Homo sapiens: one gene and its partners. The protein of the gene in region 3 interacts with the protein of the main gene of each other region in a pairwise test. Each region holds a gene or a part of one and is shown on either strand. Other genes may lie near its edges.

What was found. Proteins that work in one complex are often made in the same cells at the same time.
Region 1: the proteins of CMTM6 (region 3) and RBMX interact in binary tests that used the Homo sapiens proteins (3 or more experiments, as listed by UniProt).
Region 2: the proteins of CMTM6 (region 3) and ECPAS interact in binary tests that used the Homo sapiens proteins (3 or more experiments, as listed by UniProt).

What each region holds. Positions count from the first base shown.
Region 1 is NC_000023.11:136,872,957-136,877,752, forward strand, and holds the end of RBMX (RNA-binding motif protein, X chromosome), read right to left. Parts: intron 3,700-4,796; coding exon 3,547-3,699; intron 2,630-3,546; coding exon 2,515-2,629; intron 2,428-2,514; coding exon 2,302-2,427; intron 2,213-2,301; coding exon 2,130-2,212; intron 1,497-2,129; coding exon 1,186-1,496; 3' UTR 505-1,185; downstream 1-504.
Region 2 is NC_000009.12:111,362,380-111,369,410, reverse strand, and holds part of ECPAS (proteasome adapter and scaffold protein ECM29), read left to right. Parts: intron 1-237; coding exon 238-376; intron 377-2,783; coding exon 2,784-2,889; intron 2,890-3,083; coding exon 3,084-3,172; intron 3,173-5,751; coding exon 5,752-5,823; intron 5,824-6,112; coding exon of another isoform or gene 6,113-6,123; exon of another isoform or gene 6,124-7,031. UniProt on the Homo sapiens protein: Adapter/scaffolding protein that binds to the 26S proteasome, motor proteins and other compartment specific proteins. May couple the proteasome to different compartments including endosome, endoplasmic reticulum and centrosome.
Region 3 is NC_000003.12:32,499,828-32,507,527, forward strand, and holds the start of CMTM6 (CKLF-like MARVEL transmembrane domain-containing protein 6), read right to left. Parts: upstream 3,026-7,700; 5' UTR 2,919-3,025; coding exon 2,781-2,918; intron 1-2,780. UniProt on the Homo sapiens protein: Master regulator of recycling and plasma membrane expression of PD-L1/CD274, an immune inhibitory ligand critical for immune tolerance to self and antitumor immunity.

The DNA of each region.
Region 1 (4,796 bases), on a different chromosome or scaffold from region 3:
GGACTTTGAAAAAAATACCCCCTCCCAAGCCCCAGATCGCCATTGGTAAACAACAGCTCTATTAATAAAGCCTTTAAGTGTCACACATGCTTTAAAAAAAAAAAAAAAAAATCCAAGTGTTGAATTTGGAGGACTTCTAATACGCTATTGAATATTTCTTTTTTCCAAAAGTTTTTTTTAATCTAGAAGGCATTTCCATTGCCTTGAGGTACAGTATGTTTCACTGTACTATGAGGAAGGTAAGTGTTCAATTTCGACTTAGACGGAAAAACTAGTTTGCTTTGCTTACCATCTTTGCTGTTTCACAGGCATTTGATGCTTTAAATCTGATGTGGAATGCTGATAGATTCACTTTTTAGAAGTCATAAGCCTTTAGGAAGTTGGAGATAACTTCATTGCTTATCTATTTTCTCCTTTGCAATCAAGCTGTTCCTTTAAAAGTGAGACACTACAGAGTTGCAAAAATTTGAAACAGTAAGAGCAAGCACCTTTGCAGCTTCATGGTTGGTTTTGGCCAAACTTTTTATTTAGTATTCTGTAGTTGTTTAACACACACTTAAATGGTCTTATTGGGGGAAGGGAAAGGGGAGGTTCTTGCAGATTCCCAAGGAAATGTCAGAAAGGCAAAATGGCCAGCATTATCCATTTGCTTTTTTGGGTTTACTGGGTGAATAGCACTTTCCTTACATAGGCATGTGATTTCAGGTTTTTCGTACTGAGAACATTGAGATTTCAGTTGGAAGACACCCTGAAATCTTATGAGTAGCATACCCCAACCACCCTCTAATAGCTAGCTTGTTTGTATAGGTAGAATGATTCATCTCTCCATTTTAGATGGCTAGATGTTTTGTGGAAGATCTTAGAATTGCCTGCCTCATTTGCTGGGAAAAATCAGATAGGAAGTGGCCTTTAGGGGATACTTTTACTTGGAAAGTTACAACACTAGTACAAGTCTTAACACATTTAACATTTGCTTGTTGAAAAGCAATGCGAAAGTCAAATAAAATTAAACATGTTTTACTTTTTTCCTCACAAGAACATAAAAATTATGGAGGGGAACTTAACAGGGAATTTAAAAAAAGTAACACAATTTTTCCTTTTAGTAGTCCTTGGGTAGTTATGATAGAATAGTTTCCACTTTTTGTTTCTTTGAACTGGGATTTTGGTCCAAAGTTTTGTTTGTTTCTAGTATCTGCTTCTGCCTCCCCCTCTATCAGATCGGCTTCCTCCACGGCCACCACCTCTTGGTGCTCCGCGGCTTGAACTGCTGTAGGAATCACGTGGAGGAGGGTACCCCCTTTCCATAGAAGGGGGAAGCCCTCTTTCTTGTCTGCCAACCCGATCACGACCACTTGAGTAGAGATCACTTCGGCTGCTTGAGTAACTGTCTCGACTTCCACCATATCCGTCACGTGAGCTGCTGTAATCATCATAGCGACTGCTTCCACCATAAGATGGCGGGGGCCCTCGTGTAGGTGGAGCACTACGTGAGTTACCTGCAGGGTCAATGGTCAGGTAATATGGCAACACTATAAATTGTATATATACAACATTTTAAATCTGAATTTACAGAATTCTTGTATTAAAAGTTTACTTTCTCAACTGGGTGGGAGGTTTTAAACTCTGCCATTGCTGGCCATAACAGGGATTTGCTCATCTGCTGAGATATGGAATTGGATTCATTTTAATGTTTGTTTGAAAAGACTGAAGACGGTGTGTATTTCAAGAGGATATTCCAGAGAGCTTGTTATTTTATAGTAGACACTCAGCCACTTTCCAGTGATAAGTTGCAATTTTGAACTGTAGAACTTGCCTTCATATTGCAATGGTAAATATTTGATCTTGTTAATAAAATTTTTAAATTGTATTTTCACTGTTGGGGGAAAACACATAAGGCTGCCAATTTAAGCAAGCAAAATCCCCTCCAAAGCAAGCAAACAGCCTCAAAAGAAACTTAGAAAAACAAAAAAAGCCCCTCACAAAACTAGGAAAAGCCCAGCTGATAAAGTTACCCCTTTAAAAGCAAGCAAACATCCCTTTAAAAGCAAGCACCACACAGCCTAATAAACTGGCTCACGAACCTAAAAACTCAAGCTGGTGATACTAAAGACCCTTAACCAGTATCTTACCATAACTCTCATATGAATCTCTGTAGGAACCTCCACTTGGATGATCTGAATAGTCACGATCACGACCATATCCATCTCTATCGCTAAATTAAAGAGAAACCTTTAAGTCCCAGAGAATCAACTTTCATTGCAACTTTTCTTACATGTAAGCCACAGAAGCAAAGTCACTTACCTATATCCTCTTGATGGATAGTCATCACGTGAACTGGAATGACCATAATCACGGTAAGTATAATCTCGTGGTGGTGGTGCATAATCTCTAGTATCACGAGAACTTGGGTAATCTCTGCTTGAATAGCTACAAAGCAAAAGTTTTGGTTTATGCTTTTGATAAGCTTTCCTTCAACCTTAATTATTAATTTAAAAAGCTGCACTTTTCTATTACCTGTCTTTAGTAGAATACCCATCATCTCTTGGGGACAAATAAACATCTCTACGAGAGGGCAGCGGTTCCCTTCGAGGTGGACCTCCATAACTATCTCTTCCACGTGATACAGGAGCTTAAGGAAAAATATCATTTTTTTAAACATAGCCAGAGAAAAAAGTTAAAACGTGAACTTACATTCAGGCTATGAAAAATAATGAGACTGACTTCAAAGATGACATTACGGAGGCTAGATCACCTAATTTTATTTTCTACAATTTCCCATTCATATTTTAAATTTTTTTCAGTGCTAATTCCATTTATCTAATCACCTAGAACACATGACTAAAAGTTTTGTTTTTTTTTTTTGAGATGGGAGTCTCGCTCTGTCACCCAGGCTGGAGTGCAGTCGCGCAATCTTGGCTCACTGCAACCTCTGCCTTCTGGGTTCAAGTGATTCTCCTGCCTCAGCCTCCCGAGTAGCTGGGATTACAGGTGCCCACCACCACGCCCAGCTAACTTTTGTATCTTTAGTAGAGACAGGGTTTCACCACGTTGGCCAGACTGGCCTCGAACTCCGGGCCTCATGATCTGCCCACCTCAGCCTCCCAAAGTGTCAAGATTACAGGCGTGAGCCACCGCACCCAGACTCCATGAATAAAGTTTTTTTTTTTTGTTTTTTTTTTTTTTTTGGAGACAGAATCTCACTCTGTTGCCACGCTGGAGGACAGTGGCATGATCTCGGTTCCCTGCAACCTCTGCCTCCCAGGTTCAAACAATTCTCCTGCCTCGGCCTCCCAAGTAGCGGGGATTACAGGAACCCGCCCTACACTCAGCTAATTTTTGTATTTTTTAGTAGAGACGGGGTTTCACCACATTGGCCAGGATGGTCTTGATCTCTTGACACCGTGATCCGTCTGCCGCGGCCTCCCAAAGTGCTAGGATTACGGGCGTGAGCCACCACGCCTGGCCAATTAAAATTTTAAGCATCATTCACCTCTCAATTCTTTGTGTTACGGTAGTAGCATAAATCATCATACATGGAACATTTACCTCTTCCTCCCATTCCACTGCTACTGCGAACTGGTCCTGAAGGTGCAGATCTCTTAGGAGGAGGACCCCCACTTCTTGGTGGTGGTCCTCTTTTTACTGGGAGTGGTCCCCTGGAAGAACTCATGTTAAAATTCATGGAATATCCACCGTCATCTGCATCAAAAATAGAAAAGAAAAATATTACTACTCACAAGAATCAAGAAAGATATAAAAGTTTTTTTTTTTTTTTGAGAGTCTCACTGTCGCCCAGGCTGGAGTGCAGTGGCTTCATCTCGGCTCACTGCAACCTCTGCCTCCTGGGTTCAAGCAATTCTCCTGCCTCAGCCTCCCGAGTAGCTGGGATTACAGGTGTGCGCCACCACACCCAGCTAATTTTTGGTGGTTTTTTTTAAGTAGAGACAGGATTTCACCATGCTGGCCAGGCTGGTCTCGAACTCCTGACCTTGTGATCCGCCTGCCTCAGCCTCCCAAAGTGCTGGGATTGCAGGTGTGAGCCACCAGGCTCGGCCACTATAAAAGTTTTCTTTGCTTCATCAAGAATATGACCATTATTGGGCCGGGCACAATGGCTCACGCCTGTAATCCCAGCACTTTGGGAGGCCAAGGCGGGCGGATCACCTGAGGTCAGGAGTTCAAGACCAGTCTAACACGGTAAAATCCTGTCTCTACTAAAAATACAAAAATCCAGGTGTGGTGGTGCATGCCCGTAATCCCAGCTACTTGGGAGGCTGAGGCAGGACAATCGCCTGAACCTGGAAGGCAGAGGTTGTGGTGAGCCAAGATCGTGCCACTGCACTTCAGCCTGGGCAACAAGTGCTAAACTCTACCCCCCCCCCCCCAAAAAAAAACCATTATTGATTTGGGTAGTCTAGTTTCACTTGTACTTGATGGAGCATGCACTGCAGTCATAGAAACTGGGGAAATAAGAACTGAAGGTAGTCTTAAAAAACTTTTTTTTTTTTTTTTTGAGAGGGAGTCTCGCTGTTCCCCCAGGCTGGAGTACAGTGGCACGATCTCAACTCACTGCAACCTCTGCCTCCCAAGTTCAAGTGATTCTTCTGCCTCAGCCTCCGTAGTAGCTGGGATTACAGGCACCTGCCACCACGCCCAGCTAACTTTAAAAAATAAAAATGATTTCATTTTCATGTCCAACACCCTGGCCTATCAATTTTTAAATGCCTTTCCTACAGAGTGAACTACTTGGACAAGAAGTAACACTGTCCACGGTTTAACACCATAATCTAAAACAT
Region 2 (7,031 bases), on a different chromosome or scaffold from region 3:
TGCAGTATTTTTTAGCTTTTGTTTACAGATGCCTGTAAAGTATTGCCTAAATTTATTAGAGATACAGTATTCTGGTTATAAATTCTTGTTGTAAATAGGGAAACTTATGGTAGAGAATTTATCATTTAACTCTTGGTTAATATCTCCTGCCTTGGTTGGTACCCTGATAGCTTTAATAGTATACCTGTAACTTTGAAGAAGAAAATATTACATTTTCTTTTCTTTGATATATCCTAGAACTCACTTGAAAGCAGTGGGGTCCGGACAACCAAAAATGAAGAGGAGAATGAAAAGGAAAAGGAGCTCCAGCTGGAATATCTGCTGGGTGCCTTTGAAAGCCTGGGCAAAGCCTGGCCGCGAAACGCGGAGACCCAACGTAAGCACCAGAAACTGCATTTGAAGTGCTGTAACCAGAGGTTACTTAATGAGAGCGAAGAATTTTCTCTATGACAAATTATAGTTATTGTTTCTTATCGAGCCTGATTGATTAATAATGAGAATTATCCAGTGAAAGTTTTTTGTCTACATGAGTCTGTGATCTCACTGATCATTGTACCGCTGTAGCTAGGGCTGCTGTAAGAAAGTATCACAGACTGGGTGGCTTAGCAGAAATTTATTTTCTCACAATTCTGGAGGATAGAAGTCTGAGATTTCGAGATCAAGGCGTCAGCAGGGTTAGTTTCTCCTGAGACCTCTCTCCTTGGCTTGGGAATGGCTGTCTTCTCCCTGTGTCTTCACGTGGTCTTTGGTGTCTCTGTGCCCTAATCACCTCTTCCTATAAGGACACCAGGCACGCTGGATTAGGGCCCACTCATATGACCTCTTTAAAGGCTCTGTCTTCTATTTAATAATAATACAGTCAAATTCTGAGGTACTGGGGGATAGTATTTTAACATACGAATTTTGGGGGCACAGTTCCACCTATAATAACCATGATACATTTTATGCAGATAGTTTGATAGACGAGTTCTACTGATCTTCTTGATGATCATAGCTCTATTCAGAGGAATGCACAAAGTTTATTAGCAGGGTCTCTTTATCCTGAAATGAATGGTCTTGTTACCAAGTGTTCAGTAAGCAACTGAAATCCCTGTTTCAGTGAAAAACTCATTACTATTTGGACAATTTTCAGAACTGGACATGTATTTCCCAAAGATTAAATGAACAGTAAACCTCTATTATTGGATGAGGTTGCAGTTAGTTTGGAGTCCCCTGACAGGGCCTTAACCTTGGGATGATACTACCCTTTACACTTGATCTTAGCCAAAAGGCCAAGAAGTGATGATGCTACCCTTTAAGCTTGCCTTGTGTTGGGTCCTACAGTGCATCCTGCTGAAGATCTTAGTATTCGTTTTTTTTTTGTTTGTTTTTTTTTTGAGACAGGGTCTTGCTTTGTTGCCCAGGCTGGAGTGCAGTGGTGCAGTTCTTGCAGCCTTTACCTCCTGGGCTCAAGTGATCTTCCTGCCTCAGCCTCCCAAGTATTTGGGTCTACAAGTGCATGCCACGACACCCAGCAAATTTTTTTTGAAGAGGTGAGGTCTTGCTATGTTGCCCAGGTTGGTCTCAAACTCCTGGGCTCAAGTGATCCTCCCACTTTGGCCTCCCTCTCAAAGTGCTGGGATTATAGGTATGAGCCTCCATGCCCAGCGACAATATTATTGAATGTTATAAAAAGTACTGTTGATTATTTGTGATTGGATATGTCTAGAATCAGTTAAGGTTCTCTTTGAGCCCTGTCATCCTTTGTGTGAACTTATATATTTGCTATGTTTATAGGAAGGGTTTCCCAGAAGATACAAATTTGCAGGTGGTTTTATTTCTTAATATTATGTTATAGACTGCCATGGAAGTCCACTAATATGATGCCATAAAGAGTATTAACTTTTCCTTGATAGGTAGAGAAAGCTAAAGTAGGGAATTATATGAGAAAGATGATACAAACATAAAGCAGTTTATTTTAATATAAGACATAGAAGGTTGTTAATAGAAATGTGCATTTATTGAGAACCAAGGCCTTTTCTTTAGGAACTTAACTGTTACACATTGGCTTCTCATATATATCTACAATTTCTGGGTTTTGTTTCTTTAAAACAGAGAAAGAAATTTCAAGCTCTTATGAGACAATCCTAGTGCAGAATTCTAGATTTTTTATTGCCTCCCCCCATTTTTACATTTGTTTGAGCCCTACTAAATCCTACAGTAATTAAAAATAACTTCGTTGTTGAGTTTTCTGCTGATTCATCAGTTGGCATAATATTAATTATATAGTTATAATTACAGTTGCAGTTGGCATAACAGGTTTATAATAAAGCACTGTTGACTCTTGGTAAACCTGCAATTTGCAGAAGCTTGTGAGCATCTAGAGAGGAGCTTCTGGCCTCCAGAGTTCTTTCTGTGGCTGTCATTCAGGGAGTTTTGAGGGGCAAAGGGAGTGTGGTTAAAGTGCTTTCTCAGTTCCATGGAGAACCATATGCCTTGAAAGTGAATATTTGTGAACAATTATATTGCACCTTTGTGGGGGCAGTTTCTGATCAAGGAAATTTGTTTGGGGATTGAGTACAAAGTCATGCTGAAGTTTTTGGGGAAATTTCAATGGCTTTAATTAAAAGTATTTATTGTTTTATTTCTCTTTTTCCTGCTTTTCTCTCTCTTATCCTCCCCACCTTCTCTCTTTCTCTTTCCCTCTTCCTTTCTCTTGCTCTCTCTGCCTGTCCCTCATTTATTCCATCTCTTGTTCTTTTATACTGTCTCCTGCTCTGTCCCACCTTGTCTTTTTTTCCCAGGTTGTTATCGTCAGGAGCTGTGCAAACTGATGTGTGAACGGCTAAAACTCAGCACGTGGAAAGTGCAGCTAGGAGTCCTGCAATCAATGAATGCCTTTTTTCAGGGGTAAATTGCTTCATGGCTCAGTTTTTTATTTTGTTCCTCCCCGCAGCATTTTATGTATAATCAATGGAATTTTTATACATTTAAAAACTGGTAGCTAAAGTGACAGTGATACATACAGATAGAAATTGTGACAGGAAAGTTTTAGACTGTTTCTTAATAATTGGCATTTGTACCTTGCTTTCTGATTTGTATAGGTTAATGCTTTTGGAAGAAGAACATGCCGATCCTGAGGCTTTGGCTGAAATTCTGCTTGAAACTTGTAAATCAATCACATATTCTTTAGGTGAGTGTAGTAAACTAAAACTGATGAGGGAGTCCTAATTTTAAAGCTAAGGAGCTGAGCTTCAAATATTTCCTACTTTGTCTTAGGAACTAAATTTCTGAAATAGCTACTGGACTCTGCTACTTATTATACTCCATGTGTACCCCTTAACTGGAATATTTAAATCTGGAACTATAACAGGATTTTAGCATCTAGTTTAGAAAAACCTTCGTGACAAGTATTTTTACAAAATTGTTACTTGAAAGTAATTTCAAACTTACAGAATGGTTGCAACGACAGTACATGTAATACTCTGCAATATGTATACACTTTATGCAGAATCATTTGTTAACATTTTGTGCCATTTGCTTTGTCATTTGGACTTCTATATACATGTTTTTCTCCTGAACCATTTGAAAGTATGTTGCTTACTTCAGGCCCCCTTGTTCCTCAATTATTTAGTGTGCCACGGTACAGTTGTCAACTTTAGGTAGTAAACATGGATGCAGTTTTTTAAATCAAATGTTTATCGTTCATATTCTAGTTTGTTCAGTTGATTCGGTAATGTTCTTTATTTTTATTTTTATTTTTTTTGAGTTGGAGTCTCGCTCTGTCACTCAGGTTGGAGTGCAGTGGTGTGATCTCAGCTCATTGCAACCTCTACCTTCCAGGTTCAAGCAGTCCTCCTGCCTCAGTCTCCCAAGTAGCTGGGATTACAAGTGTGTACTGTCACGCCCAGCTGATTTTTGTATTTTTGTAGAGACAGGGCTTCACGAAGTTGGCCAGGCTGGTCTCAAAACTCCTGAGCTCAAGCAGTCCACCTGCCTTGGCCTCCCAAAGTACTGGAGTTATAGGCATGAGCCACCACACCCAGCCAGTAATGTTCTTTATAGGATTTTTTCCCCCTCCCCTCCATTAGGGAATCCAGTCCAGGTGATGATGATGATGATGATGATGATGATGATGATGATAATGGTTATTATTATTTTTGAGACAGGGTCTTGCTCTGTCACCCAGGCTGGAGTGCAGTGGCGTGATCTTGGCTCACTGCAACTCTGCCTTCTGGGTTTAAGTGATTCTCCTGCCTCAGTTTCCCAAGTAACTGGAATTACAGGTGTGTGCCATCATGCCTGGCTAATTTTTGTATTTTTAGTAGAGACGGGGTTTCACCATGTTGGCTAGGCTGGTCTTGAACTCCTGACCTCAAGTGATCTGCCCGCCTTGGCCTCCAGGATTATTTATTGAATTTTATTGTCATATATTTTTAGTCTCCTTCAATCTGGAATACTTCGTCAGCCTTTCTTTGTCTTAGGACATTGACAATTTTGAAGAATAAAGTCCCCCCGACTTCCCTTTTTGAAAAAACAGAATGTTTCTCATTTGGTGTTTGATGTTTTCTCATGATTATATCCAGGTTGTGAATTCCCAGTTGGGATACATACATAAGTGATGTGTCCTCACATTAAGAGGCACACAGTGTCCATCTGTCATCATTTGTGATGTTAATTTTGATTACCTGGTCAAGGTACTATCAGTTTTTCTCTACTGGATAGTTACTATGTTTTCTTTTTGTGTCTAATAAGTAGCCTGTGGGAACAGATCTTAAGATCATTCAAGTAATTTGTTTCTCTTCTTTAAAATTTCTTCTCTATATTTAGCATGCATTGATGATTCTTCCCTGAACCAATTTTTACTAAGATGATTTTGCAACTCTAGCACTTTGTCCACATTCACCATTTGATAGTTGGAATTCTGTTGTAAGCAAGATTCTTCTCTTCTGCCCATGTTTTTATTTATCTGTTACTGGCATTGATTCATGGAATCTTTCCCCCTTCAAATGGTTTATAATTTAATTTTTTAAATCTAATTCGTTATTCCAGTTGTCCCAGATTTGGCCAGTGGAAGCCCTTTCAAGCTGCCTCCTGTGTCCTTTTGACAGGTCACCGTCACTCTTTGTAGCACTTTTGTACTTTGTAGCATAACAAGATGATAAGGCCCATCTCATGCCTACCCTGCTTTGGGCTTGGTTGTGTGTTGATTTTTTTGGTAGACAATTTCACCATGAACCAGACGCCGTGTCAAAGAGTGGATGCCAAGGAAGCATGTTTCATTCGCAGTTGTTGGCAGCAGCATCCTTTTATGGATAAAGAACAGGCAGCCAACAGACCTCTCTTTGCTGAGTTCCAGGTGTCCCTGATCGGCTTAAACACTGGGTCATATAATGTTCTTTGGTAAAATGAGGAGGGTCATGTAGACCTAAGGATCGTTCTTATCCGTGATACGAAGATGATTTTGTGTTTGAGATAGTTTTTTCATCTCCCACTTCTAAAATGGATCATTTAAATATTGCCATTTGTTGTGGTGATTGGTATACTTGGCTGACAGGTTTTTGTTTTTCCAAAGTAAAGACTGTGGACATTAGCACACATTTCAAGTATTTGATACTTAGCAAAGGGAAGCTTCCTTTAAAAAAAAAAAATCAGATATACCCTTCCCTAGAGTTGTAATTTCTGGACATCTTTCTTTCAGCAACACAAATTTAATCTTGGAGGTTGTGTTTTTCAGGCAGGCCATATGAACTGTATGATATTTCTTTTTAGAAAATAAGACCTACTCATCTGTGAGAACAGAAGCTTTATCTGTGATAGAATTGCTGCTTAAAAAACTTGAAGGTAAGTTGTTGTTAGTTCTGACTGGGGGACCATAAAGCCATGTGGCATATGTTTTAGAAATTTTTTGTTTCGTTTTTGCTTATACTCTTAAGCATATACTCTGAAATACAAATCAGTATGTATGCACATGCAAGAAGAATGGACAAAGCCAAAACTATTAAATTTTACTAAATATTTAAATTTGATACACTTTTATATATTTTTAATATATTATTAAGCTATAGTTGTCTTAAAGTAATAAAGTTTTTGTTTTCATCGTGAATCCTGATTTAATCTTGGTTAATTACAGGAATTGGTTGACAGTGGCATGTGTACATGTAAATAAGCAGAACGACACACTGAAAAGTGGAGTTGGAAAAACATTTTTAACAGTTATCTACCTGAGTCATCAAATCTGACAGTAGCAATTTTCTTAATCCTATTTCTTCTCCCCTAACCTCTTTTTCTTCTAATGGTCTATCAGTGGGTGGGGTGGGGGGGAACTGTTAGCATTTTCTCCAGTGGTGTATCTGTTACTGACTTCAGAAGGAGGACCCTCTTCTTTTTTCTCTCTCTCTCTCAAATTGTTTTCACGGATTAAGAATGTAGAAGATGGAAACGTTTTTCCTGCAACCTTGTGTATTTGCTCTTTCTACTTCTCTATCTTTGCTTAGCAATTAAAACACCTCTCTTAGGGCTCCATCAAACAGAACTTTTAGACTGAGTAACGCTAAACATCTCCTAATCCCTTTTTTCCTTGTTGAGATAAAAGAGCTAGGCACTTAGTCGTATTACCGAATTCTCAGTTTGCCAGATATGTACTAATATAGTCCAGATGAGGAAAATAAGGCTGAAGGCAAGCTAAACTTGCCTGAAGCCACATTGCTAGGAAGTGACAGAACCTTGTAAACAAGATTTAAGATTTGATATACTTTCTTATTTTCTAAAAATTTCAATGTGCATGTAGTTCTCAGATGCTTTCCTCGAAGAAAAGGGAGTGTCATCTATTTATCTGACCTTGCAATTATGACATTTCTTAGAAGTTTTTTTTTTTTAACTGACCGTATCTTATGAAATGGTCTTGCGATGGTGTTGTTGAAATGACTTTTTTGCTGCAGTGTGCCTTGCCCTGATAATTCCTTCTTCCTACTATGCTTCAGTGTAATTATTTCTCTTACTCCCACTGATACTGGGGGAAGGAGAGGAAACTCCCTGATGTGCCTCTACGC
Region 3 (7,700 bases):
GGCTCCACTCTCTATCCCTTCAATATTCAATTCAGTTCTGTAATAGCAAACCCCATGGAGCCTCAGAGGTTTGAAAAAAAAAAAAAAACCTTAAGAGTGCAAAGAACCTCAGAGGTAATTCAATTCAACCTCCGAAGACTCTAATGTAAGAATTTCCTAAGTATATACACAATGTCTGGTTTTTAAGTTTTAGAGCAGGCTTTTCTCTTGTAGGATCTTTGAGATTCTGTTAAGATTTATGGGTCCAGAATAATATACTCAAACATATAAGTGTACAATATTTTGAATAAAATTTCACAGGGTTTGCAGGTCCCTTGTTAAAACACCTCCTCTTCTGATTACGGGTTTCTCCATTACAGTTGTTTCCTTACTGGAGCTCGCAATTCTGTTTAGTTTTTTAAAAAAATTAAACATTTAAAGTAAAACAACCAATCTATCTAAAGGAAGAATTTGAGTTAAGGCAAAGACCTTGCCTATAGCCCCAGGCTGGAAGACAACTTTTACCGACTTCATATGTAACCTTCTTGGGACTTGCTGGATAATTCCTGTAATATACTGTTACTGTGAAGAGATAAGACATTATCAAAACAAACAAAGGAACAAAAAGACAACCATCAAAGTGAAAGGCAGTAATGAAAAAGTACTTTTAAATCTCCACATTAAAGAAAGCATTCCTGTAACATGACAATTTCCCCATAAACAAATAAATGGATTTCATAAAGAGATATTAGTTTTTATTTTTTCTCCATTTCTTCTTATGAATGATGGAGAACTAATAATAGTCTAACGATCTTTTAAGGCAAATTCATCTTCTCTGTGTCCAAGTATAACATTTACCACAAAAATTTCTGGTTGTGTTCCATGTTTTCTTCTATAACAGCAATAAGGAAGGAAACTGGTTATGTTCTATTCCAAAGATACGAAACTACAGTTTACTAAACTATAAGAAGGTAATCAGAAAATTTACTTTAGCTTTGCCACTTTTTATTAGAAAGAAAATAATAAAGGCAACTGAAAACAGGAGATTTTGTGGGCAGCAAACCAATACAGATGATTTTTTTCGAGCAGCAAGAATGCTTCAGATGGGCTGGGCGCAGTGGCTTACGCCTGTAATCCCAGCACTTTGGGAGGCCCGGAGGGCGAAAATCACCTGAAGTCAGGAGTTTGAGACCAGGCTGGTCAACACGGCGAAACCCCGTCTCTACCAAAAAAAAAAAAAAAAATCAGCCGGGCATGGAGGTGCGTGCCTGTAGTCCCAACTACTCGGCACGAGAATTGCCTGAACCCGGGAGGCGGAGGTTTCAGTGAGCCGAGATTGCGCCACTGCCCCCAGCCTTGGCGATAGAGCAAGACTCGGTCTCAAAAAAAAAAAAAAAAAAAGCTTCAGATGAATATTCTTTTCTGTTCTAAAGAGTTCTACTATTCACGTAGAAAATTTTAGCTTTACTGCAGAGAAATACAGCTAATACCTAAAAATCATCATGTGACAGCTGACAAGAGAAGAGAAGGAAGAAGGAAGAAGGTAGAAGGAACAGCTTATGCAAAGGAACAGTGGCAGGAAAGAGCCCCTGATGCCTCGTAATAAATTAAAGGTGGCCAGTGTGGAACCACCTAGAGGGAGACTGGGAGAAAGATAAGGCCAGATCCTACTGGGTTCCATAGGCCACATTATCACTTGCTTTCAAATGATTTCCCAGTCATCAGCAGATGTGATCATTTTGATCGCTAAACAGCAGTGCCGATTTTCCGACTTCTGTTTTTCTATTCAATAAAAGTAGGTCACTAGAGTTCTAAGAATTTAACTTCGGGTCATTTGAGTTGTAAGAATTTAAGTTCTTTCCAAGGAAACCAATGAGCTAATTTTTACTTAGAATGGTTAAAAAACAAAACAAAGTAAGACAAAACTCATAAACATCATAAGCATTCGGATTTTTCCTAAACTGGTTCTATTGCAGAAATAGAACCTAAACTGTTTCTATTTTTCCTAAACTGGTTCAACCATCAGTGGTTGGAACAGTACATAGGAGCCAACACGACTGTAAAGTGAATAATTTAAATCTCAAAGATGCTTTGATGTTTTCACGAACAGGTTTATGGTACTTCAACTGCTTAAAATAAACTCAATAAAATGGAAAGATGCATACCATGTCCTAGTTCAGCTATCCGCACATACTTACAAAAAGCTGTCCTTTTGACTTTCCACTTAGAACCCATATTGCTCAATTTTGAAATAATTCTTTTCCAGTCAATATAAAACTTTTAGAAGACAATTTACCGGACACACATACACACACATCTCAATGCCACGCGTGGTATCGCAGGACTTTGTCCAGCAAGTTAAACTGCCCCCATGGGCTCGCAGCAGGAAAACCGCAAGAGCCAGAGAAAGATAAACAGCGCTTCACAGTCTAAATACAGGCACTGTGGGCGATAATGCAGGGTAGCAGCAGAGAGAAGAGAGGAAAGTCGCCATAGAGGATGAGTGAAAGATGTTGAAGTGGCTGACTTGGGTCTCCGACGCATTTCCTGAGCCCGCCTAACAGGCTGGGTGGCCCCAGTTCGTGGGATCCCGATGGGGAGAGCCTTGGGACTGAGGGGCCGCCCGGCGGAAGGGCGGAGGGTAACGCCCCCTTCCCCAGGCTGAGAGGGAAGGAACTAGAGGTGTGGAAACCTCCTTTTACTGAACAACCAAGCTGAAACGAAGGAGCTCGGCGGCCTCCCAAGCCCGGGCCAGACCCCGCTCCCCAGCCCGGGCTCGCCCTCCCTGACCGCGGACTCACCAGCTGCAAGCCCTTGAGAACGCGCCGGAGCAATGGGAGCCGGCCCATGAAAAAGTAGGCAGCGAGGCCGCTCCGGGGGCCTCTGGCGGGGCCCGGGTCCTCCTCCGTAGTGGGGCTGTACACCGCTCCGTTCTCCATCGCCTCGGGCCGGGGAGCGCGGCGGCCGCAGCAACCGCGCCGTTGACTTCTCGGACTCCAGAAGTCCCCGGTAGCCGGGAGGCGGCCGTCACTTCCTGGGCCTTCTCCCCGGCTTCCGCCTGACTCCGCCCCTTCCCGCCCCCGCCCTTGGCCCGCCCCGCCCCCTCTCAGCAAATTTGCTTGTTAGCTGTTGGGATTCTTCCGACTTTCATCCAAGAATTGAGTTCTTTCTGTGAGCCTTTGATGGATTTCTCACCTCCCTCCATCTTTCATCCTCCTGACATTCATTCACTTAGTATTTTTGCGTACTTTCGGTGTGCAGTGAACCCCGTTCTAGGTACTTGGGTGACAGCCAAGTACTACCCAAAATCACAGGATCCCTAGTAACAGAGACAGACAATAAACAAGAAAACAGATGGATAGCAATTTCAGATAGTGATAAGTGACGTGAAAATATGATACGAAAATAATGGATTCAGCATTTCTGGTGGCTTGATAAATTTATTAAAAAAAAAAAGAAGATGGAGGAGGAGGAGAAGAGGAAGGAGAAGGAAAAAAGGATGGAGAATTGGGTGCTCTACTTAAATGGCCACTACTAAACTGAGTGGTCAGGAAAGGCCTCTCTGAGGACCATGATCTTTGAATTGAATGAGACTCAAAGTGTGAGAAGCCAGGCTTGTAAAGTTCTGGGGAGAGCCTTTCACGAAAGTGCAAATGTCCCGAGGACCAAATGAGTTTGACTCAATCTGAAGCCCAAAGGCCTGTGTCGCTAGGAATAAGTACGGGAGGAAAGGAGATGTTGGAGATGTAGGCAAAGGCCAGATAATGTGGAGGCCTTGCAGACCAAGGGAAGAATTCGTATTTCATTTGAAGTACAATGAGTTGTCTGTAAGGACTTTCAGAATCGCTCCCTCCCGCGTCTCCCGAAATTCCATTTAGGCTCACTTTTCAAAATCATTTCCTTTTTCTCTTTCTTGGTCACCAACTGCTACAGTCACATATGTTAATTTTGTGTGAACTTGTCAAGGAATGTAATTATATTTTAGCAACTGAAGTTGATTGAGTTACAGGATGTTCACAACAATATAAAGTAGGTTCGACAGTATAAAGTCGGTTACATTCATTTTCAAATGAGAAAACTGAGGCCAAGAGGCTGAAATCATATCCAAGGTCAAACAGCCAGGAGCAGCTGGAATGCAGGCCTAAGCAGTCTGACTCGAAACCTTGCTGCTAAACGCTAACCCAGAAAACGTCAGCTTCTAACTCATCTCTCCATTGGAGTCTCAAAACCCATGGAAGAGAGAAGGGGTTTCTGCTGCCATCAGCTGCTACATCTTCTCCGTGGCCCCAAACCTCCCTTTCTTCTTCCAGTAACAAACAAAAGCTCCCATTCAAATGAATAGAGACAAGTAGATACTGCCCTGCAGGGGCCACCTACAACCAGCCAGAACTACCCTTCTGTCTCTGATTACATGCACTCTGAATGTCCTCCCAAGGCCAAGATGCCACCAATTCTGTCCAACAAGGAAGGCCACTGTATTTTCACCAGGGCTACAAGGATTCATTGCCCCATTATTCTTCAAGTCACTATCATCCCAAATTAGACACTACTGATGTCTAAAAGTTCCTTTGAAATTCATCCAAAATTAAGATGAGTTGATGACTAGAGAGATGGATAAAAGATTTGTGATAGGCCAGGCGCAGTGGCTCACGCCTGTAATTCCAGCACTTCGGGAGGCCGAGGCAGGTGGATCACCTGAAGTCAGGGGTTCGAAACCAGACTGACCAACATGGTGAAACCCCGTCTCTACTAAAAATACAAAAATTAGCCGGGCGTGGTGGCGTGTGCCTGTAATCCCAGCTACTCGGGAGGCTGAGGCAGGAGAATCGCTCAAACCCGGGAGGTGGAGGTGGCAGTGAGCTGAGATCGCGCTACGGCACTCCGGTCTGGGCAACAGAGTGAGACTCCGTCTCAAAAAAAAAAAAAAGCAGGCCGGTCGCGGTAGCTCACGCCTGTAATCCCAACACTCTGGGAGGCCGAGGGGGACGGATCACGAGGTCAGGAAATCAAGACCATCCTGGCTAACACGGTGAAACTCCATCTCTACTAAAAATACAAAAAATTAGCCGGGCGTGGTGGCGGGCGCCTGTAGTCCCAGCTACTCGGGAGGCTGAGGCAGGAGAATGGCGTGAACCTGGGAGGCGGAGCTTGCAGTGAGCCGAGATCACACCATTGCACTCCAGCCTGGGCGACAGACCGAGACTCCGTCTCAAAAAAAAAAATCATTGTTAAAAAAACAACAACAACAAGGATCTCTAATAAAGCAACTGCAGTAACATATTAATGGTAATATTTAGGTGAAGTATACGGGTGTCCACTGTACAATTATTTCAGCATTTCTGTATGTTTGAACATTTTCAAAATAAAGTATTGGGAGGAAGTTACAAAGAAACAAGGATACTTTGAGACAAGAGAGAAGATGAACAGACTTCGTCAACCCTCTTGGTTTGTTTAGGGCACACTTATGCAATTCTCTAGGGGTCTCTGCTTCTCTTTGCATTTTTAGAAGAAGACACAAATTTAGCCTGTGATTCATAAACTCCAACATGGCGAAGAATCATCTGTGAGATTAATTAAAAAGGAAGATTCTTGGAGATCTAGCCCCAAAGATTCTGAATGTAGATGGGGCTTGGGAATATACTTTCGTAACAAGCTCTTCATGTGAATCTGGGAAGAAATCCATCCACATAGAGAAACACTGTTTTATAATGTGATAAAAGTGAAAGCCATTGTGTAGTAGACAGTAGACGTGCCATATTTTCTTTGCTCTGATTGATTTGGGGGTGCCTGGGATTTAGAGACTAATATTTCACCCAGGTAAAGAAATGGGCATCCCTTACATTTTCTTCATAAATTGAAAGACCAAATAAAAATGTTAGTGCTTCATGAGCAAATACTTGTATAGGAAACTCTTTTGATGGGCATATTCACACAGAAAACTGTCACCCTCATTAATGAATAAAACAACTTGCAATAGTCAAATGGTGGGACTCACTATGTTGAAATGAGAAATCTTACGTATGGTGAAAAAAATACGACAAAAAGAAGAAAGGAAGATACACTAAATTTAGGTTTTAAAGAATATTCACTGTTCTCCTTTAAAATTAGATATTTAATTTTTTAAAAAAAGAAAGAAAAACATTCACAAGAAGAGAGAGCGATTGGGGAACATAATTTGATGGGACTTCAGCCATTCAAAAAATAATGTGGTAGTGTTGGAGGCTGTTGCAAGACCTTGGTTCTTGTCTTCTTAGTTTAAAAGAATTTAAACAAGAGACATACAGCAAAAGAGATGCAGCATAATTTATTGCAAAAGAAAAAAAAATTTTGAAAGCTAAGTACAAAATAGACATCACACCCTGAGAGAGAGAGAGAATTCAGGGCAGGCTGCTCGTAAGGATGAGACAACATTGATTATTGCTGGAGGTTATTGCTAATCATGTATTATTTGCATGATTATTCATAAGGAGGTGGGAAGAAGTGTTACCGTTAGGTTCGTGCAAGAGTAATCGCGGTTTTGGCCATTACTTTAAATGCAAAAACCACAATTACTTTTGCACCAACCTAGTAGTAAGCATCTTCTGGTTGGTCCTCTGGCTGCACATGTGCAGTAGCTGTGCACCCATGTTCCTCCCTCAGGTGTCCCATTAGCATTGTAAATCTCCACCCAAGGGCATGTTTTTTGCTATTATAATGAGCAAAAGGTCAGTTTGAGGACAGGTAAAATCAAAGTGCTCATGCTCTCTATAGAAGAAATTTCCTACTGAAGATAGCTTTGCTCGACTGAGTTCAATCACAATTCAAATGCTGAGGCTTATTGTGTTGACTGTTGGGGTCACCATGGTTGCTGCGTCCTGAGGATATGGGCACTTCCTTGACTGCCTATCCTGCCTCAGTACTACTTTTTCAGTTCAGAGTTTAATTTTTTTCAGCAGTTCCTGCTAAACAATTTTTCACTGGCCCTCTTATCGGTATTAGCACAGTTAGGCAATACTGTGGATACAAAGTTAGATTATAGACGCTATCCTACAATGATACCACAGTAATGTCCACAAAGAACTATGTTACAAAATAGAAAGAGATATGTGTTATAGAAGAGATACAAATTAAATATGTTGCTAATTCGGAGCAGAGAGAAATAACTTTCAGTTTAAAGGATCACTACAGTGGAGCTTCAAGATGGGGTTAAACTATACTTCGGTTTGGACATGCAGATACAGGGCAGAAAGTATTCAGGCAGTAGGGTGGTATGAAGGAAGGCAAAGAAAGTGTGCATAGGCACAGTGAATGAAGGGAGCAGGAAAGGACAGAGTAGTTAAGGAATATAAGCTCGAGATCAAATTTTGGAAGGCTTTGAAAATCAAGCTAAGGAACTGGGCCTTTCCATTATTGTTGGGTAATGAAGAACCCCCAACGAGTTTTAGGAAGGGGAGTGAAATGATCGGAGCTTTTCCTTGGGGATATTTTTCTAGTAGCCTTGAGCGCAGTGGTTACAGAGATCCAAGTAAGGGCTATTGTAAAAGTTCAGGAGAGAGGGAATAGAAGCTTAAACTCTGACGTTAATCATGGGGATGGCACCAAGAGAACCTTGGAGGTAAAACCAGTGAGATTTGAGGACTGATTTGTTTAGAGAGTAAGAAAGGAACTGGAGCAGGTGCCAATATTTCAAGTCTGGGTAACAAGGAGATTGAGGGAGAATAATAACAGAGAGGTAATATAGG